Linked DNA regions of Homo sapiens: regions 2, 3 and 4 are each reported to be linked to region 1. Evidence: microRNA targets listed by miRTarBase, many of them from high-throughput screens and not tested one by one. Region 1 holds a microRNA gene; each other region holds the end of a gene's coding sequence.

Region 1 (7,123 bases):
TAAGATATAAAGATGGCCAACAGATACATGAAAAACTGCTCAACATCACTAATGATCAGGGAAGTGTATATAATAGAATGGCTATAATAAAAAGAAAAAAAGCAGCCAGGCGCAGTGCCTCAAGCCTGTAATCCCAGCACTTTGGTAGACTGAGGCTGGCGGATCACCTGAGGTCAGGAGTTCGAGACCAGCCTGGTTAACATGGTGAAACTCCGTCTCTACTGAAAATACAAAAAATTAGCCGGATGTGGTTGCACGTACCTGTAGTCCAGCTACTTGGGAGGCTGAGGCAGAAGAATTGCCTGATCCCAAGAGGCAGAGGTTGCAGTGAGCCAAGGTCACGCCATTGAACTCCAGCCTGGGCAACAGAGCGAGACCTGATACTCTGCCTCAAAAAAAAAAGTAACATGCTGGCAAGGATGTGGAGAAAAAGCAAGTCTTGTGTTTTGTACACTGTTAATGGAAATGCAAATTAGTTCAGTAATTATGGAAAATAGTATGGAAGTTCCTCAAAAAACTAAAAATAAAACCACCATATGATATAGCAATCCCATTACTAGGTATTTACCCAAAGAAAATAAATCAATTATAGAAGACGTATCTGTATCTCCATATTTATTGCAGCACTATTCGTGATAGCCAAGATAAGGAATCAAGCTAAATGTTCTTTAAAAGATGAACAGTTGAGGAAATTGTGGCATATATATACAATACAATAATATCCAGTCATGAAAAATAAAATTCTGTCATTCTGCCATTCACAGATAAACCTGGAAGGTATTATGTTAGGTGAGATAAGTCAGGCACAGAAAGATAAACACTGCATGTTCTCTCATATGTGGGAGTTAAAAAATGAGCTTATAGAAGTATAGAGTAGAATTATGGTAATCACAGTTTGATAATGTTATTAAAGACAGAGAAAGGTTGATTAATGGATACAAAGTCACAGCTAGACAGGAGGAATAAGTTCTAGTGTTCTATAGCACTATAGGGTAAGCATAGTTAATAATAATTTATAGTGTATATTAAAAAAACTAGAAGAGATTTGGAATATTCCAAACATGAAGAAATGATAAATGTTTGAGGTGATGTTTATCCTAATTACTCTGATTTGATCATTACACTTCATATACATTTATCAAAATATCACTCTGCAGATTATAAATACATACAATTAATATGTGTAAACTAAAATGCAAAGGAAGAAAAACCCAACAAAGCAATTTCTCCACACGTTACCTAATCCACAACAAATGGCTTCTGAAGTTTACCTCAAGTAAAGGCCATAAATATGACTCTTTAAGGTAGAAATCTTAGAAGTAAGAGTTACTTAGCTTAATGCCCTCTAGGTTTATCCATATGTATTTCATTGTAGTGTTAGTAGCAATAAAGTATAGAAACGACCTAATTGCTCATTGAATGGTGACTGATAGTGTTACATATACAGCCATGCACTGTGTATTGCATCAGTCAACAAAAAACCACATATATAAATGTGGTCCAATAAGATTACGATACTGTGTTTTTAGTGTAATTTTTCTTTGTTTTGGTATGTTTAGATGTACGGATGCTATTGTGTTACAATTGCCTATAGCATTCAGTATAATAATAAGCTATACAGAGTTGTAGCCTAGGAGATACAGTCTATGTCATATTGTCTAAGTGTGTAGTACGTTACACTGCTGTGGGACAGGCAAGGCCCCAAACTGGGGCTTAGCCAGGGAGGATTTCTTGCTTAACCCCGGAAAAAATTCAAGGATGAGCTAGGAGTCTTAGCAATCGTTTATTGAATGGTACTGCTCCTTGCAGAGCAGGGCTAAATCATAGGCAGTGCAATCAGAGTCAGCAACATATGGTCTCTTGGCAACGGTATTTATACTCAGCGAGACCCACATTCAATTGCATGCAAATTGAGGGGTGAGCCAATGCAAATTGAGGGGCAGGTTGTTTAGAACTTTCTAAGGCAGGTCAAATGCATGCAAATTGAGGGGTGAGCCAATGCAAATTGAGGGGCAGGTTGTTTAGAACTTTCTAAGGCAGGGGCAGTAACTTTTAGGTTGTTGCCATGGAAAGAGGTGGTAACTTCTGGGTTGTGTTGCCAGGCTGCTCATATTGCTCATTAGCATAAGACACTACCACCAGCACCATGACAATTAAATTGCAATGAGTAGTTAGAGATTGCTTTTGTTGACATCTGCCACTTCCTATCAGTTTCTTCACTTCATGCTCTCTGGCCAGATCCTGTTTTGGTTAGCAGGGTTGTGACCAAAAAAAAGTCCTGCTGAAAGATGAATGGATAGTGTTATATATACAGCCATGCACTGTGTACCCAAACTACAGAGTGCATGGCTGTATATATAACAGCATCCACTCAATACCATCTAGGTTTGGATAAGGACACTCCATGATGTTCAAACAATGATAAAATTGCCTTAAGGTACATTTCCCTGTTAAGCAATGCATGACTGTGTGTGTGTATATATGTATATGACCATGAAATATTATTCAGCCTTAAAATAGAAGGGGATTCTGCCATATGAGGCAACATGAAAGAAATAAGTTCTATTGTTGGGGGTGAATAGCCATGAGAGTGGAGAAGGCCATCAGTTAATCCATGGTTTGTGGCATTGGCCAAGCATGACAAGCAGTGAAACCATATTCAAATATGGAATCAACTTTTCTGACGATGACAACAAACAACTGTTGGCTTTACTATACAAGTCAGAGGCAATTGTAAGGCTCTTTGTTGTTTAATGCCCCACAGGTAAAACTTTTCTGTCCAGGGAATATTCTAGAGCAATACTGTGCAAGAGACCATTGTGTGATAACACGTGTTCTACCCTTGCATAGTCCAATATAGTAGCCTGTAGCCACATGTGCCTTTGAGTATTTCAAATACAGCTAACACAATGGAGGGACTGACTTTTTAATTATTTTAATGTTTAGTTAATTAAACATTAAAATTAACTTTAAATAGCCAAGTGTAGCTCCAAGAAACATCTGGAGCTACCAGGAACTGGAAGAGATAAGAAAGAATTGTCTCCTAGAATCCTGGATTAAATGCAATCCTGCCGACACCCGAGTTTGAACTGGCTTCTAGAACTGGGGGAGAATACATTTCTGTTCTTTTAGCCATTTGTTTTATGCTAATCTGTTATGGCAGCCTGAGGAAACTAAAACAGATGGCTTCGGGGAGAAATTTGAAACAGAAGCAAGAAGTAAAAACAGTAAGAAACAAACAAGTATGTATTCATCACAGAGGTACAGAAATTAACCATCAAATATCCCAGGCCCTAGGGGAGGAAGTGCCACGGTGGCAGCAGCGCTATCTCATCAGACTGTTCCTGTGGGGGGATTTTACTGCCATTCTGGAACCTGGTTTCCATGGGGCTGCCCTGTTCTGAGCCTGTTTCTTTAGCCTTCCAATAATTATATGATTTATCCAATATAATCTATTACCTGGTTTAGGTCAATTGGAATGGATTTCAGTCATCTACAACCAAGAACACTGACAGGTATACTAACACCTGTCAGATAGTATTGTGAATTGTGGGGAAAGTGTTCCTAAACATGACAAAACACAAGAAAGCATTAAAAAATGGTGACAGATATGAGTATTTATGAGTTAGTTAATAAACATATATGACAATTTATATGGAAAACAAAGTATGTGATGCATGATGGATTAGGAAAACATACAATATATGTAACGAAATGATATACAATGTCAATATTTATTTTTAAGAAGCAATACTAAATTACAAAATAAAATATATACAATTCTATAGGAATAGAATGCAAATTACCAATACATACATGAAAATTAGAAAACTTTTGCAATTAGAAAAATATAAATCAAAACAATAGTGTTATACTACTTTTTTCTGAAATTAAATTGCAAAATTAATATATCCAAAGATACTCAACATGATCCATATTAGACATGGATGTGTGAAGAAGGCACTCCAATCTAGGTTTTTAAGGATATAAATTTGTAAAGCCGTGTCTCAAGAATGTGTGACAATAATTCATGAGTGGCAATTTAGTATACGTTAAGCTTTGATCCAGGTAATTTAATTAAGATCTATCTACAAAGATAAACACACTTGCACACAAGTTTCTAAGGGTCAGATGGCTTACTGTACAATTTTCAGGATGTTATTGTATCATTGGTCACATCTTAATTTCTTAATTGTCCATGCCCATGGTTTTATCAGAGAAAATGAGCTAAGAACCCCAGAGACAATGGAGAGTTTGCAATGTAGTTTTTCTTTAATTTTTCATTTTAAGTTCAAGACGTCCGAAGGTGTATCTACTGGCTAGAAAAAATTGATATGTTTCCAATTACATTTCTATACATACATGGATGTGTTTGTGTGTATAGCTTTTTTGTCACAAAACCTGAGGACATACAGATAATAAATGCCTGAGAAGTATGTTGCTCTTCTTAAAATAAAACACATGATGAGTTTCCCTTTTGTTTGAGGAAAGCAGAACAGTGCTTTGCTTCGCATTGAGAATTTATGATTGCCATAAGAAAGCAGTGGTGAGCAGATAAAAGCTGTCACAAAAGAAATTTAAATTGAGCTGAAATTTTTTTTTTTGGCAACAGCTAAATTTTAAAGTTATAAGCAGAGTAACCTTGGGAAATGCCATATATATTAGTATTCTTATTTAACAATGATTGTAATTAAAAGAGCTCATTGCATTAGAAAAGAAAAATCATGCTTAAGACTCTGAAAGTTTAGAATTCCAATAAGGTAAAATAAATGTTACTTCATATTAATGTGGATACTTCATAAATTTTAAAAGTATTTCTGTCTCATCAACTAGAACTCAAAACTTATAGGGCTAAGTACACATTTTTAATTATTTTCTAGTCTAATATTTGAAAATCCACTTTCATTTAAATGATTTCATGAGCTTAATTACCCTAATATACATGGTAGAGTTACGTACATTATCCAGTTTATAGAATAGAAATAAATAAATATATGTTTATTTATTTGTACTGCTTCTGCTTTCATAAATGTAGATGTTTTTTCCTTTTCTTTTGGATAATCATAGCTCTGGTAATATACAGGTGATGTAATATATTTCTTTTTATCATATGCCTTTTTAATTTTCCAAATTAATGAACTAGGTCTAGGATTTCCTTCTACTCTTTATGCTTCTTGCATGATACCTGGCTTATGTTCTCTATTGTTCCACAATCATCGGCATCTATGTTCAACTATGCAATGATTTGTCATCATCCTTGATCTGAAATGATGGGGTATATTAAATTTAATATTTGATAACTGAAGAACATATAGTGAATATCTTTTAGTATTTTAATGAATTATGATCTTTAAAGTATTAATGTATTCTCATTATCTTATTTTTGCATAATCCATAACAACATAGAAAAAAATATCTAACAATTACCCACCATTACCCCATTTTCAAAGTGTGTTCTTCATTTCATGGTAATAACTTGTCCATGTGTTATTGTATATAAACTTTTTCTAAAAGGCAGGGTTATTTTTCTTAACAATGTCCTTATGAATCCTTTACTTAGAAATGATTAGAAAATGAAGTACAATGTTTGGCGATAGAGTTATCTTATTTTGAAACCCAGTTCCCCTAGTTGCAAGCTGTTGGGTGTTAGCTGGTATCTTAATGTCTCTACCTCAGTTATTTTACTTTATAAGAGTGAAAAGGCTCATCTTGTAGAATTTCTGTGTACCTTAAATTAAACAAACAAAAAAAATGAGTAAGGTAGCTATTGACTGAAAAAGAACATTACAATGCCTAGGATTAACTTTCATCATGTTTTGGGATGATTTGTTACAGTTGTATATAGGATCACCACAAAAGATCCACGGCCATACACATCCATGTTTTTGTCAGAATAAATAAACATGTGGGACTCTTCTGACAGTTCTGTTCACATTTCTCTAACCTTGGAGATGGTCTAAAGTAAACACTGTTACAATTTATGTACTATAAATATGTCTTCAAAACCTTACTGCATCTTTTTCCCTGAAAAAAAAAAAGTGACTTCAGGCTAATTGGATAAGTTAGTAAAGACATTTAGATAGAATATTCTGAGGGTTAAATAGTATGTTTTAGTAATAAAATATATAAAACAGTTCCTTCTTTGAGATACAGTTGCTTGAAGTGAGTCTAGAGTAGTCTGAAGGAATCCAAAAGAACTCTGAATTGAAATACTTGTGGGGAAAAGAAAGAGAGATCAGACTGTTACTGTGTCTATGTAGAAAGAAGTAGACATAAGAGACTCCATTTTGTTCTGTACTAAGAAAAATTCTTCTGCCTTGAGATGCTGTTAATCTGTAACCCTACCCCCAACCCTGTGCTCGCAAAAACATGTGCTGTGTGGACTCAAGGCTTAATGGATTTAGGGCTATGCAGGATGTGCTTTGTTAAACAAATGCTTGAAGGCAGCATGCTTGTTAAAAGTCATCACCACTCCCTACTCTCAAGTACCCAGGGACACAAAACACAGCGGAAGGCCGCAGGGACCTCTGCCTACGAAAGCCAGGTATTGTCCAAGGTTTCTCCCCATGTGATAGTCTGAAATATGGCCTCATGGGAAGGGAAAGACCTTACCGTCCCCCAGCCCAACACCTGTAAAGGGTCTGTGCCGAGGAGGATTAGTGAAAGAGGAAGGCCTCTTTGCAGTTGAGATAAGAGGAAGGCATCTGTCTCCTGCTTGTCCCTGGGCAATGGAATGTCTGGGTGTAAAACCCGATTGTATATTCCATCTACTGAGATAGGAGAAAACCGCCTTAGGGCTGGAGGTGAGACATGCTGGAGGCAATACTGCTCTTTAAGGCACTGAGATGTTTATGTATATGCACCTCAAAAGCACAGCACTTTTTTCTTTACCTTGTTTATGATGCAGAGACATTTGTTCATATGTTTTCCTGCTGACCCTCTCCCCAATATTACTCTATTGTCCTGCCACATCCCCCTCTCAGAGATGGTAGAGATAATGATCAATAAATACTGAGGGAACTCAGAGACCGGTGCCGGCGCGGTCCTCTGTATGTTGAGCGCCGGTCCCCTGGGCCCGCTTTTCTTTCTCTATACTTTGTCTTTGTGTTTCTTTCTTTTCTCA
Region 2 (7,123 bases), not on the chromosome of region 1:
CTGGCACAAGTCCTGGGCTCAGGCCTAAGCCGCACATGCACAGGCAGATACAGAGAAGTGAACAGAGTCTTTGAAACTTGAAGTGGTGCCACCGGGACCACCACCACAGAAGGGGAGACAGTTTGTCATCTGAACTTAACTGAATTGGTTGTCTGCTTACAATCAGTCTTCTCCAGGGATTTTAACAAGTTGCAGACTCTTGGGACTTGGTATTCAAAACATCCAGAATATGATCCAACATTACTAGATGCGCAAGCAACCAGGTAAGTATGACCTATTCACAAGGAAAAAGACAACCAACACATGTCATTCCAAAAATGACTCAGATCTTGGATCATCAGACAACAACTTAAAACAACTTTTATAACTGTGCTCTTAAGATGAAAACAAAGGGCCAGGCGCAGTGGCTCATGTCTGTAATCCCATCACCTTGGGAGGCCAAGGCGGGTGGACCACCTGAGGTTGAGCGTTCGAGACCAGTCTGGCCAACATGGTGAAACCCTGTCTCTACTAAAAATACACAAAAATTAGCCGGGCGTGGTGATGCACATCTGTAATCTCAGCTACTCGGGAGGTTGAGGCAGGAGAATTGCTTGAACCTGGGAGGCGGAGGTTGCAGTGTGCAAAGATCGCAGTCTGGGTGACAGAGTGAGACTCTGCCTAAAAAAAAAGAAAGAAAGAAGTTATTGATGGAGACCCAGAAGCTATGAAAATTAAGAATTCTAGAACTGAAAAAATTATATTTCTGAAGTTAAAAAATGTAATGGATGGACTTACTAGCAGAATGGAAATAACAAAAGAAAGAGTCAGTGAATTGAAGACAGATCAGTAGAAATTAACCAGAGGACACTGAGAAAATGGATTAAACAGAATGAATAGAACTTCAGGATCCTGGGAGACAACACCAGAAAATCACGTATTTTTTGACACTAGAGTCTCAGAGGGAAAAGAGAAATTGGTGCAGACACAAAAAAAGTTTTTAGAAATAACTGCTGAAAACTTCTTAAATTTGACAAACAATATAAATACACATTCAAGAAACTCAGCAAAATCCAAAGAAGATGCTCAGCATATCATAATCGAACTGCTGAAAACCAAAGATTGAAAGAATCCTGAAAGTAGCCAGAAAAAAACCCAACACATTCGGTATAGGGAAGAACAATTTGAAATACGGGTTATCTCAGACATATAATAAAAAATCATGTAGGCCAGGATGCAGTGGAACAATACCTTTAAAGCACTCATAGGAAAGAATCATCCATCCAAAATTCTATACCCAGTGCCAATATTCTTCAGGAATATGGACTTCCTGAAGAATCCTAAAATATGTCCACAAATTAATTGGAGATCCTCTCTTCAGAAGCTGGGGCCTAATTCCCCTCCCCTTGAGTGTGAGCCAGAATTAGGACTGACTTTTAATGAATAGACTATATCAGAAGTGACATTTCATGATTCTGAAATTTTAGTTATTATGGTGAACACCAGTCCCCTGACAACATGGTTCAAATTTGAGTTACCAGAATATATTAACTGTAATTGCATGAAGTTCAAACTTTCTGCTAGCTCCCCAGTCCACAAATCACTACATAATAACACAGGTACATCATGATCAGTGACCAATCATGCCTCTTCTTTCCAAAACCTACGGGTGATTGGTCACTGTGCATCTGTGTTCATTTCACGCACAGACAGCAAAGTGTGAATTGTGTGGCCTCCTTGTCTTCCAGTGATAAACCCACATGGCATTTTTACACAAATGGATATTCAAAAGAGAAAACTGACAAATAAAGATAGAAATGCAGCAAAGAAACTCAAACTGAAAACACTGAACGTGAATGCAAATCAAACATAAATGGGGTCACTGAAGAAACAGACTATGGGGATGCTGGCACTGCTGCCGAGAAGGTGAATTCCTCAAATAAATGAAGAAAGCGGTTGTGATGAAAAGGATGAAGATGTTCCAGAGGAAGGAACGTCAGCAAAAACCTTCACGTTAAAGGGACTTGGAGATATTTCATGACATTGAAAGCAAAAAGGATAAAATATTGGAAGCTGATCCAAACTTAGAAGGGGCATGACAAGTTTTTGAACACAGAAAAGGTGCTCCCTCTATATCATAAGGTACATGACTTTTGAAGAAGGCAAGCACTGTTTAAATGTCTGTTGATGGTTTTTTTAGGAAGACATCAAGCACTTTAATTCCCTGTGTTGCTAATGTTTTAAATTACAGTGTACAAAAATATTTACTTTATTGTTTCCTTATACATTTCTAACAGTACAAGATTATCAATGTTTTGACAATTTTCAAAAGACAGGAAAAAAATCACAATTTTACCCATTAATGATTATGAACAGCACATGGCAGTTTCAGGTTGGAAGGTCATTTTTACAGTTCTGAACTGCTGTGCAGTGAGGACTGTCTGTTTTATGTTGGGAGACTCTGTGTTCTGCTAAAATTCCCTGAAGAATGTTTCTTTTTTTTCTGTTTTGTCAGGCAATCAGCCTCGTTAGCCTTAGTCTGCAGGTCCTGCGTTGCCTTCTGTTTGGTGGTGGTGGTCCGAGTGTCAGTTCAGAGTGTGGCTGTGTTGCCTGGGCTCTGTCTCTTGTATGTGCAGCTCTGGGCTGAGCACGGAATTCAGCTCATGTACAGAATTAGAGAATCCTCTTTTCAGGTCTTTGCTCTTCAGGATTTCCCCCCAGACTCCCTGGCACCCAGGGGGCCCCTTTTCCTCATCCTCTGGCTTAGAAAGATGGGCTTTCTCTCTGATGATTACCTGCCTACACTGCCTGCTCATTTTGCCAAAAGGAACGCCCCTCAGGCAGAAAGCAGAGAGAGAAAAAAAGATGGATTATTTCCACATTCTTCAGACCATAGGGTCATTTTTTCCTGCTCCTCTGGCTGGAAAGACAGGTTTTCTCTCAGGGGAATTTTTTTGTTTGTTTTTGTTTTTGTTTTTTGAGACGGAGTTTTGCTCTTGCTGTCCAGGCTGGAGTGCAATGGCGCGATCTCGGCTCACTGCAACCTCCACCTCCCAGGTTCAAGCGATTCTCCTGCCTCAGCCTCCCGAGTAGCTGGAATTATAGGCATGCACCACCACGCCCAGCTAATTTTGTGTTTTTAGTAGAGACAGGGTTTCTCCATGTTGGTCAGGCTGGTCTTGAACTCCTGACTTCAGGTGATCCACCCGTCTTGGCCTCCCAAAGTGCTGGGATGACAGGCGTGAGCCACCGTGTCCAGCCTGACTAGGGTCATCTTTAGGTCAGGACTGAGAGAGAAAAAGTTTAAAAAAGGAAAAAAGCAAGGGATTATAGCCACACTTTCTAGCTTGCCGGGCCCCCATTTACCAGAATGTTTTAAGAAAGTTCCAGACTGTTTTCCCATCAGCTGTGTATGAGGGTTCCAGTTCTTCCACATCCTTCTCAGCAAACAAGTTAACCATATTTGGCACAGGATTTCTAGACCTGTAGGTTACGGAAATGTCACAGTATGTTTTGAGGCCAGTAAGGAGTTCTGCTTTTTTTTTTTTTTCCTGAGACGGAGTTTCGCTCTTGTTGCCCAGGCTGGAGTGCAATGGTGCGATCTCGGCTCACCGCAACCTCCGCCTCCCAGGTTCAAGGGATTCTTCTGCCTCAGCCTCCCTAGTAGCTGGGATTACAGGCATGTGCCACCACGCCTAGCTGATTTTGTATTTTTAGTAGAGACAGGGTTTCTCCATGTTTGTCAGGCTGGTCTTGAACTCCCGACCTCAGGTGATCCACCCGCCTCGGCCTCCCAAAGTGCTGGGATTACAGGAATGAGCCACTGCACCCGGCCAGTTCTGCATTTCTTAAGAGAATCTTTGTGAGAAGATGTAGATATTGGCTTCATAATAATAAAGTGAATTTGTGGTATTAAATAAATGGAAAAAAAGACAAACGGTACAAATTAAAAGTTCTTGAGATGTTTGGGCTGACCATGAAGGGATCCATTATCTGAAGAGTGGCTTAAGATTTAGAAGGCATAGCTCTACAGTCTCTTTGTCTTCTAAGGGCAGGGCATCTTCTATCTTCTAGGACAGGGTACAGTAAGTCTTACCAAACATGTAAGACATGTTATTTGGGGATATTCAGCATTCCTTTTCCCTTCCTAAAGGTACTCAGGTTTCTTTCTCAGAAATTGTATATATTCATCCCTGAAAGGTCTGAGAAAAAATAAAAAAAAATTGTGTATAGTTTTGGTGAGATCGTCAATCCAGGAACCTGTTTCCCCATATTAAAGTCAAAGGAACTATACTGTTTTCACTGCCAGGCTGGGGACTCTTAGTACCTAAGTTTGGTCCATTCTACTCTTTTTCATGACTTTGAATCTTGAGCAAATGACTACAGTAAGAGTGGGGTTCATTCATGTCATCAACAGCATCCCAGCTGTATTGTTAAAAGTACCTGTCATTCTTAGTTCCCACCCAGTCTTAATCCTGGTTCTCCAACTTTCATAAAAATCGTTGTTTTTTTTTTTTTTTTTTTTTTTTGAGACAAGGCCTCACTCTGTTGCCCAGGCTGGAGTGCAAGTGGTGTAATCTGGGCTCACTCCAACCTCCACCACCTTGGCTCAAGTAGTCTTCCCACCTCAGCCTCCTGAGAAGATGGGACTACAGGTGCACACCTCACCTGGCTAATTTTTGGATTTTTTGTAGACAATGGGTTTCATCATGTTGCCTCAAGAAAAATAACATCATGGTAATACTAAGTCTTTTATCAGTGACATGTAACTGATTTTAAAATATTATATAGTGCTTCCTAGTTTAACCAAACTGGAGGCATGTTTTATATGATGGGCTGATGTCTCATGAATAACTGTGCCAAAATCCTCACTTCTGAGTGCACTGATGCAGTAGATGGATGTCTCAGATCCCTCAGCTCCCAGATTGGGCCAACTCTCCTTATACCACCACACCTGGGACCTGGGAGGAATGGGGAAGGGGACTTTATAGGGCAGAGCTTTCCCAGACTCTTGTTCCACCCTAAGGATAAAGTATTACAGTAACTTTCTTCCTGCCTTCCAGAGGCACTTTCATTCTTCCTGGAGCTCTCGTCAACCCTGACCTCTTCCTTTGTCAGCAAGGTCAAACGCCTGAGCCACAAGTCTTAGCTGTTTCCAGAAGGGTGATTGTGTGCTCCCACCTATATCTGAGGTCCTAGACTCCTCAGAGGAAGTCAGCTTCATGTGATCTAGGTTACTCAAGCCTGGGGCTAGTGTTTTCATATTCTGGTATGAGAGACTTGCTTCCTCTGGAAAGATCTTTATGGTTTACACAAATGTAACAGACCACTTAACAATAGCTAGTCTCTAAAATGTACATCTTAAAATGGCTTTATACTTACGGGAATTCCTAATTAAAAAAAAAACTCACTTGATTTATATCACATTGTAAAATATAGTTTACTTCAAAAGATGATCCTGAAGATCCCATCACAGAGTGTTTAAGGGATGATTATAAACTTTTAGCCCTTAAGAGAGAATATATATACTCAACTGAGTACTGTCTTTCAAAGCAGTCCCTGTCAGTTTGTCCATTGATTCCATAGCAGCTCTCACTGCCCACCCTGCTTGAGAAGCCTCTTGGAGTTGCCTAGAGAGTCTATAGCACTCATCTGAAGGCCCTCCATGAGAACAACTCTTCTCTTCCACATAGATATTTTTGCATCAGCCCAAAGCTATTTGGACACAAGTTTGGTGAACACGGTAAGAAAAAAACAAACCAAGCAACAAAAACAAAAAGCAGGCAGTGCTGTGTTAGACTGAAAGTAAAAGATAAAAACTCTAAGAACCTATGAAGCGCCAGGGCAGTGCTGGTTGCTTTCACCCATATGGTCTCCTTTGGTGTTCTGCTGGTGCTTATGAAGCAGTATCCCTACTGACAATGACCCTAGCTTAAGAGGGCTGAGAACTGCTGAAAGTGAAGCTGTTTATAAATGGTACAGTCAGGACCGACAGACACATGGGTGTGGTATGACTGCAAAGTACCTGTGGAATTCAGATGGGATTACCATCCCCACTATAAAGGGCAATATGATCTGTTGCAGGAGGGTTTATAGGGTACTTAGTTACACAGGTCACACTGATCCCCTTTTCCTCTTTTTTTCTATGCAAGTATCTATTTGTCTATATGTCTGTCTACCTTGGTAGGTTGGGCTCCTTGAAGAAGGGTTATGTTTTCTTCATCTCCATATCCCCAGTAGCTGGCCAATGCCCAGTATACACCAGGGGCTCAGTCGCTGTTTGTCTTATTTTCTTGTTGACTCTACTCTGACTTAGGACATATCACTTTCCTCTCTTGACCTTCACATTCAGATGTGTTAATAAAAGTGGATAAAGACCACTCTAGCTTTAAAACACCCTCCAATATAGAGAGAACTCTGAAACCAGAAGCAGAAGCTGAGGAATGGTGAATAGAGCATTTTCCCTCACACGATGGGTATCAGGGTGGTTTCTTGTCCTTTCAATGCCTCTGCAGAACTTGACCCTAGTTTTTCAAATTGGACTCAAGAATGATCTTAGTGTTGGTGGTTTTGTGGTTTTCTTTGAGACTTTGTTATTGACAGAACAGCTTCTGGAAATCTGAAAAGAAAAAAAAAAAGGTAGTTTATATATTAGTTTGGAATATGAAATGTATTTTGTCATGGTCTCCAGAGTCCGAATATTGATCTCTGTGGAGCTCTCCTACCCTCTGCTACTGCTGATAACTCATAGTACTGGAGAGATAGCAGAGCCTGAAGACCAAAAAACTCAACTGCCGATACACGGCTGCAGTGTGGTCAGTTACTGATCTACCATTTATGAAGCAGGCCTACAGATGTGTGTGTTCTTCTGGGTAATTTAAATTGACAATTAATTAACAGGGCTGGTGCTAGGTAAACATTATAGGTTAGAATCCCTAGTGTGGATTAATTTGCTCTCTTCCATGATCGCAGACTCCCTGCTTAGCTCCAGTCTGCTGGTCTCCCAACATCTGCTAATGATTACATGGGCAGCATTAAGGTCTCTTATTACCTTGTTTGAAAAACTGGAAACTCATCTGTTATTGTTGGTGGTTAGATACCTCACCTAAGTAAAATATTAATTAATGATATTAGGCTGGGCGCG
Region 3 (7,123 bases), not on the chromosome of region 1:
GCAAATGAAAGCCCCTCCAGTTTTATGATTTCATTGTATTATGATTTCTCATGCAAATTACAAAAGGAAGCCTGTTGTTTAGAAGGAGCACAGATTCCTGATACTAAGATGATTAGAAATTTCCCTTGAGGTGTTTCATAGAGAAGCGACTTTATCATATATTGAACAATGTTCCCAGTAACAGCCTGAGGGTAAACAGTGTTTCAGTTTATAAGGCTGTTTCAGCATCTTTCAATATAGGTTGGTACTATCACACTAATATGTAATTTTGTAACAGCAATCCTGTAAGCGAGCAAAAAGATAAGGTTCTCTTTTCTAGCTTGGACTAGGAGTAGACTGCATAGCATGGTCTTTGAACAGTCCTCTGTAAATGATATTTCTCTCTCTGGACTGAGCTTTCCATAGGCATTAGATGGCATCATTCCTGGAGCACAGCAGCCACAGCCATCTTAACAGACAGCTGAGCTGAAAATAGTGTTTTCTTCCTATGAAAATTAAAGGGCCTTAAAATACATCTCTTAAGACATAGCCTATTTTAGTAACATTTCTCTACATATACACTGTCACAAATAAGTGGTACCTGTGTGTGTGTATGTTTTTCCCCCTAGGCTTTACGTATTTCTACAAAGGAAAGGAGTATTGGAAATTCAACAACCAGATACTCAAGGTAGAACCTGGATATCCAAGATCCATCCTCAAGGATTTTATGGGCTGTGATGGACCAACAGACAGAGTTAAAGAAGGACACAGCCCACCAGATGATGTAGACATTGTCATCAAACTGGACAACACAGCCAGCACTGTGAAAGCCATAGCTATTGTCATTCCCTGCATCTTGGCCTTATGCCTCCTTGTATTGGTTTACACTGTGTTCCAGTTCAAGAGGAAAGGAACACCCCGCCACATACTGTACTGTAAACGCTCTATGCAAGAGTGGGTGTGATGTAGGGTTTTTTCTTCTTTCTTTCTTTTGCAGGAGTTTGTGGTAACTTGAGATTCAAGACAAGAGCTGTTATGCTGTTTCCTAGCTAGGAGCAGGCTTGTGGCAGCCTGATTCGGGGCTGACCTTTCAAACCCAGAGGGTTGCTGGTCCTGCACATGAGTGGAAATACACTCATGGGGAAGCTTCCATGATGCACAGTATCTGCTGTTCTTCAGTCCTTTGTCTTTCTTTGTCATTCAGTTCTAGGCCTTTCCTCTGCACGCTCAATGCCCAGTAAAATTTCAGGATTAACTAAAGAAGAGGAGAAAAAGAAGAAAAGATTCTTCTTAAAAGTTTCTAATGTTATTTTCCTTCTGAAGTCTGAGCCCATTTCTGGGGGGAGAAAAAAAAAGCAAATCAGAAAACCCACGGTTTTTCTTTTTTTCTTTTTTTCTTTTTTTCTTTTTTTGCTTTAAAACAAAGGGAAAAAAGAGTTTAAACAAAAAACCCACAATTGAACTTCCAGGAAAGTGTGAAGACCCAAAACAGCTTTGTCTCCAAAGAAGATAGCTCTCTGACTGCTTTGGATAGTCTCCTACGCACCATTTTGTCAGGTGGGAGATTTGGAATACACATGCAGGACGTTAGACTGTTGGGACAGCCATTTTCCAACAACCAAGGGGCCAAAATATCTGCAATATAGTAACAGCCTTAATAATACATCCATTTTTCGTTTTATACAGCTGTTCTCAGCTATGTCCTCAGTGTTTCATCGCATTTATATTCATAGCTATTTTCAAACACGACCTTTTAATTGTTTTTGAAGTATTTCTAAACCCCTTCTTTCCACCTTACTCCTCCATCATTGTGATAATCTTCCCAAGTTGTATTAGGCCATTGCCCCAGGCCTTCCATGGGTCTGTCAGGAATATTCGTTACAAAGCAGAGCAAGAAGCAGTATGTCTCTGAAGTGGATTACAGTGGCAGTTATTTTACAAGGATTTGTGACACTAGTAACATACCCGTGTAACCCTTTGAGAACTATCAGACCAGCTTTCAGAGTCTTAGGATTGTCGGTCTTGCGATCTGATAAATTATAGAACTGGGCAATGGTAAAAACAGTCACAAGTTCAAGAAGTTCAGGTTTTTAAAACAGATATCCTATAATGTCATATAATTTTTAAATGATTTACAAGACTACATAAATGTGTTTATAACAAACAGAAATGATGTTACTTGCCAAAATTTTTCTGGCAAATAAAAAAGGTATTTTATTAAGATTCTCATAAATCTGAAATTTTATTTGAAAAACTGATAATAGCCTAAGTCTTCTTTTCTTTTTTTTAGGCATACTGAATTTCTGTTTTAAAATCCATTGCATGAAAATTCAATTTGCCTTGGTATATGCAGTTAGCATTGCCATTTTAAAAATGAATTAAAACGGTGACTCTGAAGTTGCATGAATATCCTCCAGTGCATTACCTATTGCATGTCCACCATAGTTCTCAAAGGGTTAGTGTGGCTTCTGGCATTTAGCCGTCCATTTGATCACTGACAGAGCCAAGAGACCACCAAAGCATTTCATTGTTGAGTGTAATTTGTCCTAACAGCAGTATTGTCATTTTCATGTGACCTGCAGAGCAGGTTTGTATCAATATTTTTTTCCTAGAGAAAAGTCAGCAACTGACAGACCTCTTTATTGATTTTTAGGAGCTGCTTCTTGCAGTGAAAGGCTTTACAGCCACTGGGCTGTGAACTTATTAGAGATGGTCAGAATGAATGCACCCCATGAGTCAGACATTGGCTTTGTGTGAAAGCCAGCTTTGAGGGGATTAGCTTTTGAAACAATGAACAGCTTGCCTTGAACTTGATTATTGATCTATTGACTGTCATTAACAACAACTTAAACATTGTCTTCTGTGAAAATTTTCCTTGAAGAGTCCTGTTCTATGTCTTTGCCCTTTGACCTTTAACTTGCAAACTGGCACAAACTGAAGGAAATCTGGTGTTGCTTCTCCATTGGATTAGTTGTTCTCTAAAACCTAGTAAGCATGAGCTGTTTCCTTAGAGTGGAGAGAGTGGTGATGGCAGATCTGCAGATGGACACTTTGCTCTTTACATGCACACTCTGAAAATGCCCTATAGGTAGAAGTGAATTTTAATTTCATTTTAATATAATTTCAAGTCTAAATTCATCATTTTAGTACAAATTACAAAAACTATAGGAAAAAAAAAACCTCAAATACTTGAATGGCCAGTGTGGCTTTTATATAAAGCAGGAATTTTATACTAGTAAAAATTTCTTACTCATTTGCTAATACACATTTCCAGATGATTTTTAATGAGTGTAGGTATACATTCTTATTTGGAAATGGATAGTTTGGCTGCCTTGAATTTATATTTATACTCAACGTAGCATGAAAATTAGAATGCCTTTTGGTTAAACTACATGTTTATGATTTGGTTGGGGAAAATATTTTATAATTGTGGGTGGCATGCTGCAAAGCCTTGCAGATTGTTATTTCTTACAACCTGAGCGTATATAGTATGAGCCTAAGAAAAAAGAAGAGTAAGAAAAGAAGAATGGCTTTACAGTAAAATATCATACAATGCAGACAATATTTTAAGAGGATATTGGAGATTATGTACGCAAGGGCCAAGAAAGCAAGAAATGAGAACCAGAGTCAGCCCTGTAGCTTTACTTCAGTGCTTCCATTCTAGATGATGCTGATATTATAAAGAGTTAGTCACTGCTGCTAAGCATGGAGGACTATATACATAAGCTCGTTTATACAGTGTTTGCTTGTGGGAGGGTTTAATCCTTTTAGGGCCTTGATGTCAAGAAAAAAATAACTGGAAACTATATTTTGCTAAAGATAGAAATGAGGAACTGTGTCATTTTGGGACATGTGCAAATCATTGAGGAACTCCATCACCCTGCATTGAAAATTGATTTTTTTTTCCTCTAAAATGAGAAAGAAACTGAATAAGCAATCTGTTGCCTCTTTACTCATTCATCACAATATCCTGATTCGTCATAAGGCTATCAGTATATAAGGGCTAGAAAATAATCATAGCATTAAGAAGGAAGGAGTCTATCATTATGCTTGAATTCTGGCAAATGTCATGAATAAGGGTTGGGTCATATTTACTTTAATATGAGACAAGATTTATGTGATAAGCAAAGGCATATAAGGCTGCTCTTTTGAACAGAACATTTCAGTTATCAGGCTGTACTATTACAAGAGATAAGAAGACAATAAGGACAATGTAATCACAAACAGTGGGATTCCATTTGTTTATTGTACACCAGCTACTTTGTGGGTATGGTTCCTGACTCCTCTTCTACATGAGGTTTGGGAAAAAAGTCTCAAACCAAATGGAACAGTGAAAGGGAAAGTAATTCATCTAGCACATAAGAATAGTGATTCAAAACCAATGCAGAATAAATTTCCATGGGTCAATAACATAAGGTGTCAGTTCAGTGTTACTAGAGATATGCAAGGCATAAAATATTTTCATCACCCCATCACTAATAACATGAAAAGCTCAGACATAGGATTTCCCAAATTGAAATGAAAACACATTCATGCCTGCAAAAATAATTCTCCTTCTGCTTCATTTCTCATTACTTTATCTAATATAAACACAAATGTAAACAAGGTAATGGTCTTCATGTAAAATGACCATATAGTTAAGAATTTTAGTAAAATATTGTTGTTCTGTGTATTATTAAACAAATGCAATGAAGTATTAAAATAGCTGATCAGTTTGAATTTCCTGTAAAGCAGTAATTCCGCATCAGAATTGTAGATAAGGTTGTGAATTTATTGACTCATTTCAGAACAGTGTCTGTTGACATGGCAGTCAGAGCAGGTGAATACAGATGCTCTTTCTGATTGCAAAGGTTATAGAGCTAAATTAGACAGCATTATGTGATACTAGCAAAGACAACTTCTGTTATAAATCAGAGGGCAAGGCTTTTCTGAATCGATGTGATAAATTACTAAGTAATGATTACCAAAAATAATTACTAAGTAATAAAAGATACAGACTGGTTTACTGAAATAAGCAAGTGTTACATTTAATAATTACCTATAATCTTTTTTTGTTAACACATAAGCAAGTGTTACCTTTAATAATTACCTATAATCTTTTTTTGTTAACACATAATTTGGCCATTTCATATACTGTGTACCTATTTTCATTCCCTCTCTGTGGGTCATTAAAAAACACAATGTGGTGGATAAGAACATTGTCCAAACTTCACTGCTAGTTCCAATACATAGATGATGGTGTGTAAACTGGATTGTAGGGGTAGTCATATTTGCAAGTTCTACATGTTATGCTAATATATCTAGTATGGTACACATACACGCCCACACTTTGTGGATCTTACAGTGGAATAAATAGTGTGTCCATATTAACTAAACTCAAAGTGCTATCTGAAGAGGAATGGATGTTATAAGCAGACAGACAGACTGAGTTAAACTGAGTCATGAAAAAATATATATTTTAAAGTTTTTGGAATCATTTCCAGAAACTAATAAAGGGAATTATTTACTGGTAGTATTGAGTCTGTGAGATTGTAGTATATACTGAAACAATCTTCTGGATGGTGGTAAGGTCTTTTTTAGCAAACACAGTAAAGAGCTTATTTCATTTCTGATGCTTTCAAGGGCATATTCCAAAGTATCACAGATGTCAAATAGAATATGCTATATAAACCAAAAATGTGCATTTCAGATGACCTATTACAGCAATCTCAGCCAATATGTAATATCACAAAATGTGTCAAGTCAATCATATAAGAGGATCTAATCATTCGGCTGTATTTCATGTACCTTCATGTTGTTGATATATTGTGACCACAGGAAATAGGTGCCAGAGCATATGCAGTTAAGTTACAGGCTCCACGTTGCCTAGGAGGGAATCATAACTACATCAGAAAATTTTTAACAGTTATATCTTAAAAATTAGAATTTTATGTAATAAATAAAGCGGCAACCAGGAATAGCAACGCAACAAATATGAAAGCTAATTATTATATTTAGCTTTCATATTTATATAATATGATGGAAATGGAGGAGGAAAAATGAGTCTTTTGTTAAATATAAAGACAAACTATAACACTCCTTGATAATACAACTGGAAATTTTACTTTAGCAAGCATAAAATAGTGGAGGAAAAAAATCCAACTTCAAGCTCTTTGCACTAGTGATGATTATGTGATATATCAATGTAATATTTAGCCAGTGGTCATTAGATGTTACTGTGCTTAAACACATCTGATACTCATGCATTGCCTTACAGGCTAAAAATGTAAGAGGTAGGTGTTCAGTAACCTCAAGTTGGAAAGATATATAATGTTAGAATCCCCTGAGACAAGCCATTTCCCTGAAATAGAAATTTACCTCAATACTCATGTAATCTAAGACACTTGGCGTAGTAGCAAAGAAGTTGCCTTCATGTTCTAGTCTCATCTAATTGTGACCTTTGTCTTTCATGTACTTCTGAAATCATTTTCCACTTTTTCCACTGGTGTGATTTTGAAACAATTCTGAAATATTTCAGGTAAGATTAATAACATCCAATTACAAATATATGTTTCAATATTTTATACGTATGTCTACTTTGAAAGTTAAACCAATAGTATAGAAAGCCTAAGAATGAACACTGATTGGACATACTCACAGAAATTAAGGGAAAAACACATATTGTAAAATTCCTGTCAATGTTTGAGTAGAATACAGAAGTACATAGCAGTCTTCAATTTTTAAACACAATTATGGGCTTATAACTGGACGTGACATGCATCATTTATTAGAACAATATTATTTATTTATACTAAGTAAGGATATAAGATCACAGAAGCTTAGTGTTATAACGGAGACTTCACAGACATTCATAACTAATGTTTTCTAAGGCAAATAAGGGCATAAACCAGAACTCATGGTCAGTGCAGAGTAAGTATAAAAAGTTATGTATGAAAGACATTTATTTATAGAGATTTCTGAGGATTCTATGCCTTTTCAACTTAAAGATGAGTGTGTCTTAGAATTTGTTTTATGCATCATTGGACTGGGGATGATATTCAAATGTGCACTCAGCGTGTCCTCACATTAAAGGGCACATTGAACAGTATAGGAAAATACATCATAAACTAGAATGTTGTACAGATTCATATAACTTTCCCATGTG
Region 4 (7,123 bases), not on the chromosome of region 1:
TCGGCGACAACCGGCAGCTGCGGACGCTGGCACCCGAGACCTTCCAGGGCCTGGTGAAGCTTCACGCCCTCTACCTCTACAAGTGTGGGCTCAGCGCCTTGCCGGCCGGCGTCTTTGGCGGCCTGCACAGCCTGCAGTACCTCTACCTGCAGGACAACCACATCGAGTACCTCCAGGACGACATCTTCGTGGACCTGGTCAACCTCAGCCACCTGTTTCTCCACGGCAACAAGCTGTGGAGTCTGGGCCCGGGCACCTTCCGGGGCCTGGTGAACCTGGACCGTCTTTTGCTGCACGAGAACCAGCTGCAGTGGGTCCACCACAAGGCGTTCCACGACCTCCGCAGGCTGACCACCCTCTTCCTCTTCAACAACAGCCTCTCGGAGCTGCAGGGTGAGTGCCTGGCCCCGCTGGGGGCCCTGGAGTTCCTCCGCCTCAACGGCAACCCCTGGGACTGTGGTTGTCGCGCGCGCTCCCTGTGGGAATGGCTGCAGAGGTTCCGGGGCTCCAGCTCCGCTGTCCCCTGTGTGTCCCCTGGGCTGCGGCACGGCCAGGACCTGAAGCTGCTGAGGGCCGAGGACTTCCGGAACTGCACGGGACCAGCGTCCCCGCACCAGATCAAGTCACACACGCTCACCACCACCGACAGGGCCGCCCGCAAGGAACACCACTCACCCCACGGCCCCACCAGGAGCAAGGGCCACCCGCACGGCCCCCGGCCCGGCCACAGGAAGCCGGGGAAGAACTGCACCAACCCCAGGAACCGCAATCAGATCTCTAAGGCGGGCGCCGGGAAACAGGCCCCCGAGCTGCCAGACTATGCCCCAGACTACCAGCACAAGTTCAGTTTTGACATCATGCCTACGGCCCGGCCCAAGAGGAAGGGCAAGTGTGCCCGCAGGACCCCCATCCGTGCCCCCAGCGGGGTGCAGCAGGCCTCCTCGGCCAGTTCCCTGGGGGCCTCCCTCCTGGCCTGGACACTGGGGCTGGCGGTCACTCTCCGCTGAGGACCCAGGGCGTCAGCACCCAGCACTGCCACATGTCCACCAAGGAACAGAATTTATTTTCTTCTTTTTTTAACAAGTGGAAGATCTGCTGGGTTTCAGGAAAAGGCTGGTAGAGCCTTCGGCTGCTGTCTGGACGTCTGGACCCTGCCATGTGGATTATAAACCCAAAGTGTACAGCCCTAGGCGGGAGGGGGTGGCGCTTCTCAGCCGGCTGTCCCAGCCAGCCCCGCAGAGCGCCCACGGACAGTGTCCACTCTGGCAAGGTGGGAAAAGGCACTCCAAGTGCATCCTCCACTGGCAACAGTGGGACAATTGCCCCCGACGGCGGCACCGGGGCTCTGTGGAATCCCGATCGTTCCGAGAGGTCTGGAGGGCCCCGTGGTTCCTGGAGAAAGCAGGACGCAGAGAAGAACAAATGAGGCTCACCCACGAGGCTGGGTGGCCAGCAGTCTGGGCACACACGAGCAGGTGGCATCTTGGCTCTTGCCTGAGGCCAGTCACCCTGCCCTGAATTCTATCCTACTCCACCTTCAGCCCCTCCCTCGGGGGTAGCGCCTCTCATTCCTGATGTCTCAGGCAACCCTGGCAGACCCAGGTCCAACTGCTGGGGTCCAAGAACCAATTACCAAAGGAAAGATCATCAGAGGCTGAAATCTAGAACTTCATCCCGGGCAATGAGGTTCTCACAGAAGGTGCAGTTTTATAACTAACTACGTCCACTTATATATATTCACACTCTACATATATATATATATATATATATATATATATATATATATATATACACAAATGCACAGTCCCCCTCCCACTCCGTTACCTAACTGTACGTCTTTTCATGTTTATAAACTATACAGAAAACTGTATTTGCTGAACTAAGGATTGTATTGGTGATTTCTAGCAAAAACAAAGTGATAGAATTTTTGTCTAGAATCCCAAACTGGCAACGATAGTCTCCAAGGGACCTGGCCTTGCCAAGGGCCTGGGGCAAGGTGTCGGCGGGACGGTGAGGAAGGGGGAGGCAGCAAGAGTCACTTTGGGGGACCAATATTCTTAGATATTTAGAGCATCACCTTGTTTTTATATGCAACACAAGCCTGTCTGCCACCCTGGAGCGCCCTGTCACCCCTGCTGTCGTAGCTGTTGGCTTCAGGGTGAGAAGTGAGAAGCAGCTTATTGTATATGAGGGAGCCAGGCCCCGAGGGTGAGCGAGATGGAGAAGGGGAAGGAAGGGGCTTTGGGATCTGGAAACCAGCAGGCCAGGCAGCATCCACAGTGTTAGTCCAAAGGGTCGGACCGTGTCGTCAGCCTAGCGTTTGGTCAGTGACGGCCTGGACGGGCCAAGGAGACTCCGGGCTTGAGCCCAGGCCTCCCGCACGGCTCAGCTGCTGAATTTTTCCTTGAGGCTGTTTGGTGTGTGACCCAGCAAGGGCCCTGTGTGGGACAGCAGGAGGGAGGCGTCGGGGGCCTTAGCAGAAGGGGAACAATGAGGGCATTTCATGAACCATCTCAGGCACTTCTGCATCACGGAAGACCTGGCCCTCCCAGCCGTCCTGGGGATGCTCAGGGTGCAGGCAGAGGCTCGGGAGGCCGGACTCAGGGGTCAGAAGCAGGGACTGGGGCAGGCGAGCCCGGACAGGGAAGAGGGGCTCCGATCAAAGCCGGCCGTGCTGCTGGCCGGGGGCCCAGGTGGGTACAAGCTCCTTTGTGCTTTGCACAAACCTGAATCCCCCACCAGAGAGGATGTGTGTGAGGAGCCAGAAACGCTGAATCCAATTAAGAGAGAAAAATAATAATAACAATAAATGATCTTGGACAAGAACCCTGTTTTTCATTTCCTAACCCCGCATTCCCGACAGGTGGCAGATCCTGGGCTTCTGTGGGTGGGCGAGCCTGGCCGGGCACAGCTCTGGGAACACAGCACATTTGTTGGCGGGAGGAGCCGCAGGGGGCAGGGGCGCACTGATTCACGGGACACATGAGAGCACGCACACCCTGGTGCTCCGTTTCGTGGCACTTCCCTTGCCCGCACAGATCATGATTCACTTTCCACATTCTGACTGCCCCGGGTCGGCACCATCTCCGTGGCTCTCCCCGGAGGAGGCTGGTCCTGGGTCCTTCCTGGCCTATTCCCGGGAGTCTCCGGAGCAATGGCTAAGTGACTGATCCTCAGGGCGCCCGGCAGGCGGCTGGTGGGGACGGGCGGCTGCAAGGAAACAGTCAGTACCTGGGGCCCAAGGAGTTTTCCAGGAGGCTAGGGACCCACCCGGACAGCTGTGGGTGGGCTTGGAGACTGCACACGTCTCTCTGGCTTCAGAGAAAGGAGAGGGTTCCCCGGATAGAGGGAGGAAGGCTGTGTTTTCAGGCCTGGCTGGACAAATCCTCCTCAGTATGAGGCTTGGGGCATTCACTAAAGGGAGCCCAGTGACTGCAGACCAAAGAATCCTCAGCCTGCACCTGCTCCCCTGTGGCCTGCAGGCTCTGACCCAGGCCGAGGTGCTAGGGCCTGGCTGTCCCTTAGAACCCAAGGATGTTGTTGTGTTGTTGATTTCATTTCCAGCTTCAGACAGCAAGGCCCTCAGTGGGAAAATCAAGAGTCTAAGCACTTTATTAATTTTTTTTTTAAAAAAAGACTTAGGAAGTCCTGTAATATGGAAGTGAAATGTCAGTACGAGAAATGCTAATGTTTTATAAATGATCCGCTTCTGTCAAGCACAGCACAGTCTCTGGTTGCCGACTGTTATTAGAGGCAAGGCAGTGGGGGCCCAGGACGCCAGGTATTTTTAGCAGCTTTCTCCTCTAAGAGGTAGGGGGAATCAAGGCAGCTCTGTTGCAGACGACATCAGTTGTCACTCAGCAGCTCATGCTACGCAGTTATGATGACACCATCGCCCCAAACATCAAAGCAACTGGACGCGTCAGGGGCGAGGCAAAAGCTTCTCTATTCGCCAGCTCCAGCCCCTTGCGTCTGGTTCAGGGCATGGAGATGCAGATTCCTGTGGTCTTCCCAGAGGCGGGGGCCACCCCTCCGCTGCCATCTTCCCACTTTCCCTGGACCCCCAGAGGGAGTCATCTCTTCTCCCTCCCAGCCCTCCTGCCACACAGGCCTCCACTGTGGACTGATGGGGACAGAGCCACCCCTGTTGGAGGGGCTGGGTGGCCACTGGTGGTCTCCACTGTGGACTGACGGGGACAGAGCCACCCCTGTTGGAGGGGCTGGGTGGCCACTGAAGGCCTCCACTGTGGACTGATGGGGACAGAGCCACCCCTGTCGGAGGGGCTGGATGGCCACTGGTGGTCTCTAAGGCCTTTCACACAAGCTCCTCCCCTGACCCCAGAGCTTGGCTGGCTCTGCATAGTTCATTCAACAAGGGCTGATCAGGGACCTCCGTGTCCAGCCACTGGCCAGGCTCTGGGGACATAAACGTGAGAAGACGTGGCTCGGGGCAAAAGGAGCTCAGAGCCTAGATGTAGAAACAAGTATTCGCAACTGGTATGGAGTTGGCGCTTGTGGTAGCACCCCTCGGCCCCCAAAATGAGGAGCTCAGCTGGGTGGGGGCAGTCAGAGAGGGCTTCCAGGCAGAGGTGACACTCCAATGAGTCTTGGAGGATGAGGAGCCACCCAGAGAAGAGTGTGGGGAGTAGGGCTAGAGGTGGTAACAGCACTGTGTCTGGGGTATCCACAAACCACTCCCAGCTGAGGGCATGGGAGACGCGCCCTGTATGGGAGCGGCCCAGGGGACTCTGCTCAGGGACTCCACTCTGCCGTGGAAGTGGAGGGGCTGTGCGGTCCCCCCGACCTGGTCGTCCTCCCGCCCACCCCCCCCAGCCTGTCCATAGGCACGTGGTTTCTGACCGTGGCAACCTTGCCGCGGTTCTTCAACAGTGGGTTTCATGGTGGAAACTTGCCTCCTGGGCTCAGCCAGATCCTCCCCTGGTGCCAGCAAGCTGGAGCGCTCGCTGGAAGTCTGCCTGGGCCACAGGCCCATTCCCAGACACCTGCTGCTTCCAAGCTTGGGAAGCATTCCACGGCCTGCGCTCCCTGCTTCCCAGCCGCGGCCGCCCTCAGCCCCTCCTGACTTCGGAGCAGCTCAGATCACCCCGGCGCTTCTGCCTGTGCGGGCTGTGACCATCAGCCAGCCCCAGAGCCCCTCCCACCAACCGCACCCCTCCTCTCCTGCCGGGGCTGTTCTTTGCAAAAGCCAAGAATCCCATTTAGCAAATGTTTACTCATCACCCAGCTAATCACCAGCGCTCTGCCGCCACGGTGAATGGGCTCCAGGAAGGCCTGTGAGCAGGTTGGGGGGAGCGGGAGAGCCCGGGAGGCCTCGTGGAGGGCAAGCTGCAGGGACTGGGGTCAGAGGGAAGGAGTTTGCTGCGGAGGCTCCCTGGAGCCACCGAGCCCTCAGCAAATTCCCCTGGACATGCACGCCCGCTTCCCAGGCAGGCCCCACCAGCCCATGAGCCGACCCACCTCTCTGCCAGGGACCCAGCTCCTCCGGGCCCTACTCTATGCTGACCTAGGGAGGCAGTCTTTCTCTGCGTTTATTTGTCCTACTCTATGCTGACCTAGGGAGGCAGTCTTTCTCTGCGTTTATTTGTAGCCTCCTGAGGCTCAAACAATCCTCCTGCCTCAGCCTCCTGATTAGCTGGGACTACAGGGACACACCACCATACCAGGCTAATTGTTTTATTATTTATTTATTTATTTATTTTTTGAGACAGAGTCTTGCTCTGTCGCCCAGGATGGAGTGCAGTGGCGCGATCTTGGCTCACTGCAACCTCCACCTCCCGGGTTCAAGCGATTCTCCTGTCTCAGCCTCCCAAGAACCTGGGATTACAGGAGCAAGCCACCGTGCACGGCTAATTTTTGTATTTTTAATAGAGATGGGTTTTCTCTACATTGGCCAGGCTAGTCTCGAACTCCTGACCTCATGGGATCCACTTGCCTCAGCCTCCCAAAGTGCTGGGATTGTAGGTGCGAGCCACCACGCCCAGCTAATTTTTTAACTTTTTAGTAGAGATAGGGTTTCACCATGTTGGCCAGGCTGGTCTCGAACTCCTGACCTCAAGAGATCCGCCCACCTCGGCCTCCCAAAGTGCTGGGATTACAGGCTGGGCCAGCGCACCTGGCTGGTGTTCATTCTTTGAGGAGGGGTGGGTGCATGCTTTGATGGAGTCCCTTCCAGCCCCCGTTCTGAAGCCTCCTGACCCGGTTCAGCTCCCCGCCTTGCCCTCTAACTTCACTTTCCTCTAAGCAGGAGTTCAGCCATCAGCCGCGACTCCATCCCCATCACCAATCCCCCACTATCAGCTCGTAATGGGCCAATTTTCTTTTACCTTCTGTCTACTTGGAAAATATCTCAAGAACCTTTGATTGTGCGTTAAAATATCCTTTAGAATTCTATGCTCGGTATCTTTCTGCTCCTCTAATTGTCCCTTTTAACTCACCGTGCTTTCCGTATAAATCTCCCGGTCTCCTCCTTCCCAGGCTGTTAATAAATATGAGCTCTAAAAAAATACATAAACATCTATTGTTGGCTAAATAACTCACGGCACAATCAAAAAGCCGGGAAAAGAAGAGAGGCTCGGCGCGTCGCATGGCCACCTGAGCACCCTCCCTCGCGCGGTCCTGCCGGTCTCTCCAGAGAGGGCTGCTGAAGGCAGGGGAGTCTGGGCCCTGAAGAGCCCATGAGGTGAAGGGACCCTGGGGGAGAAAAGGAAGCGAGGCAGAGAGAGTAGCTGTACTACCAGGGGGACAGGGCTCTCTCCAAGAGCGCCGAGTGAGGGGTTTGGACAAAGGAGACCCTCGTGCAGGGAGCAGCGGCTGGTTTAAGTGGCATTTCAGTGGGCTGGCCGCCAAGGCCCCTCACCACCACAAGAAGTGGGTCAGCCTCCTCTGACACCAGCGCCAGCCCACAAGGAGGGGGCCCGCCCCCATCTCTCTCCTCTCTGCCCTCATTTCTCATTAGAGCCGTTAGTTTCTAAGCTCCAGGAGGGTGGGGAAGGATGTGCCTTTGTGTCACCGATTCCTGTGTGGCAGCGTGCACACTAATGGCATGCCTGAACGGCAGAATTTGACATTGCTGCTGCAAGATGTGCTTGGGTCACAGTGCTTT

What was found. Region 1 holds the annotated microRNA hsa-miR-5011-5p (UAUAUAUACAGCCAUGCACUC, at 2,340-2,360, opposite strand). A microRNA usually pairs through its seed, bases 2 to 8, with sites in the 3' UTR of a target mRNA and lowers its output. Matches are read on the target gene's strand: a 7mer-m8 pairs with bases 2 to 8, a 7mer-A1 pairs with bases 2 to 7 and ends in A, and an 8mer does both.
Region 2: miRTarBase lists FAM120AOS as a target of hsa-miR-5011-5p. Seed matches in the 3' UTR shown: 8mer at 5,500-5,507, 7mer-m8 at 5,499-5,505 and 7mer-A1 at 4,160-4,166.
Region 3: miRTarBase lists MMP16 as a target of hsa-miR-5011-5p. Seed matches in the 3' UTR shown: 7mer-A1 at 5,429-5,435, 7mer-m8 at 5,430-5,436 and 7mer-A1 at 6,282-6,288.
Region 4: the mRNA of RTN4RL1 is a reported target of hsa-miR-5011-5p. Seed matches in the 3' UTR shown: 8mer at 1,729-1,736, 7mer-m8 at 1,731-1,737, 7mer-A1 at 1,749-1,755, 8mer at 1,750-1,757, 8mer at 1,752-1,759, 8mer at 1,754-1,761 and 15 more.

What each region holds. Positions count from the first base shown.
Region 1 is chr18:67,076,844-67,083,966 of GRCh38, reverse strand. It overlaps MIR5011 (microRNA 5011), which reads right to left and starts at 2,383; the gene lies at 2,281-2,383.
Region 2 is chr9:93,441,100-93,448,222 of GRCh38, forward strand. FAM120AOS (family with sequence similarity 120 member A opposite strand) reads right to left here. Exons shown (of 3, transcript NM_198841.4): 3 at 2,233-6,598. The coding sequence ends at 6,512. Among named protein-coding and RNA genes, the nearest start is that of FAM120A, 7.0 kb to the right of the region's middle.
Region 3 is chr8:88,035,281-88,042,403 of GRCh38, reverse strand. It overlaps MMP16 (matrix metallopeptidase 16), which reads left to right. Exons shown (of 10, transcript NM_005941.5): 10 at 609-7,123. The coding sequence ends at 943. Among named protein-coding and RNA genes, the nearest start is that of DCAF4L2, 160 kb to the right of the region's middle.
Region 4 is chr17:1,930,380-1,937,502 of GRCh38, reverse strand. RTN4RL1 (reticulon 4 receptor like 1) reads left to right here. Exons shown (of 2, transcript NM_178568.4): 2 at 1-2,826. The coding sequence ends at 1,007. Among named protein-coding and RNA genes, the nearest start is that of RTN4RL1-AS1, 84 kb to the left of the region's middle. RefSeq lists enhancers at 4,721-5,285, 5,286-5,851.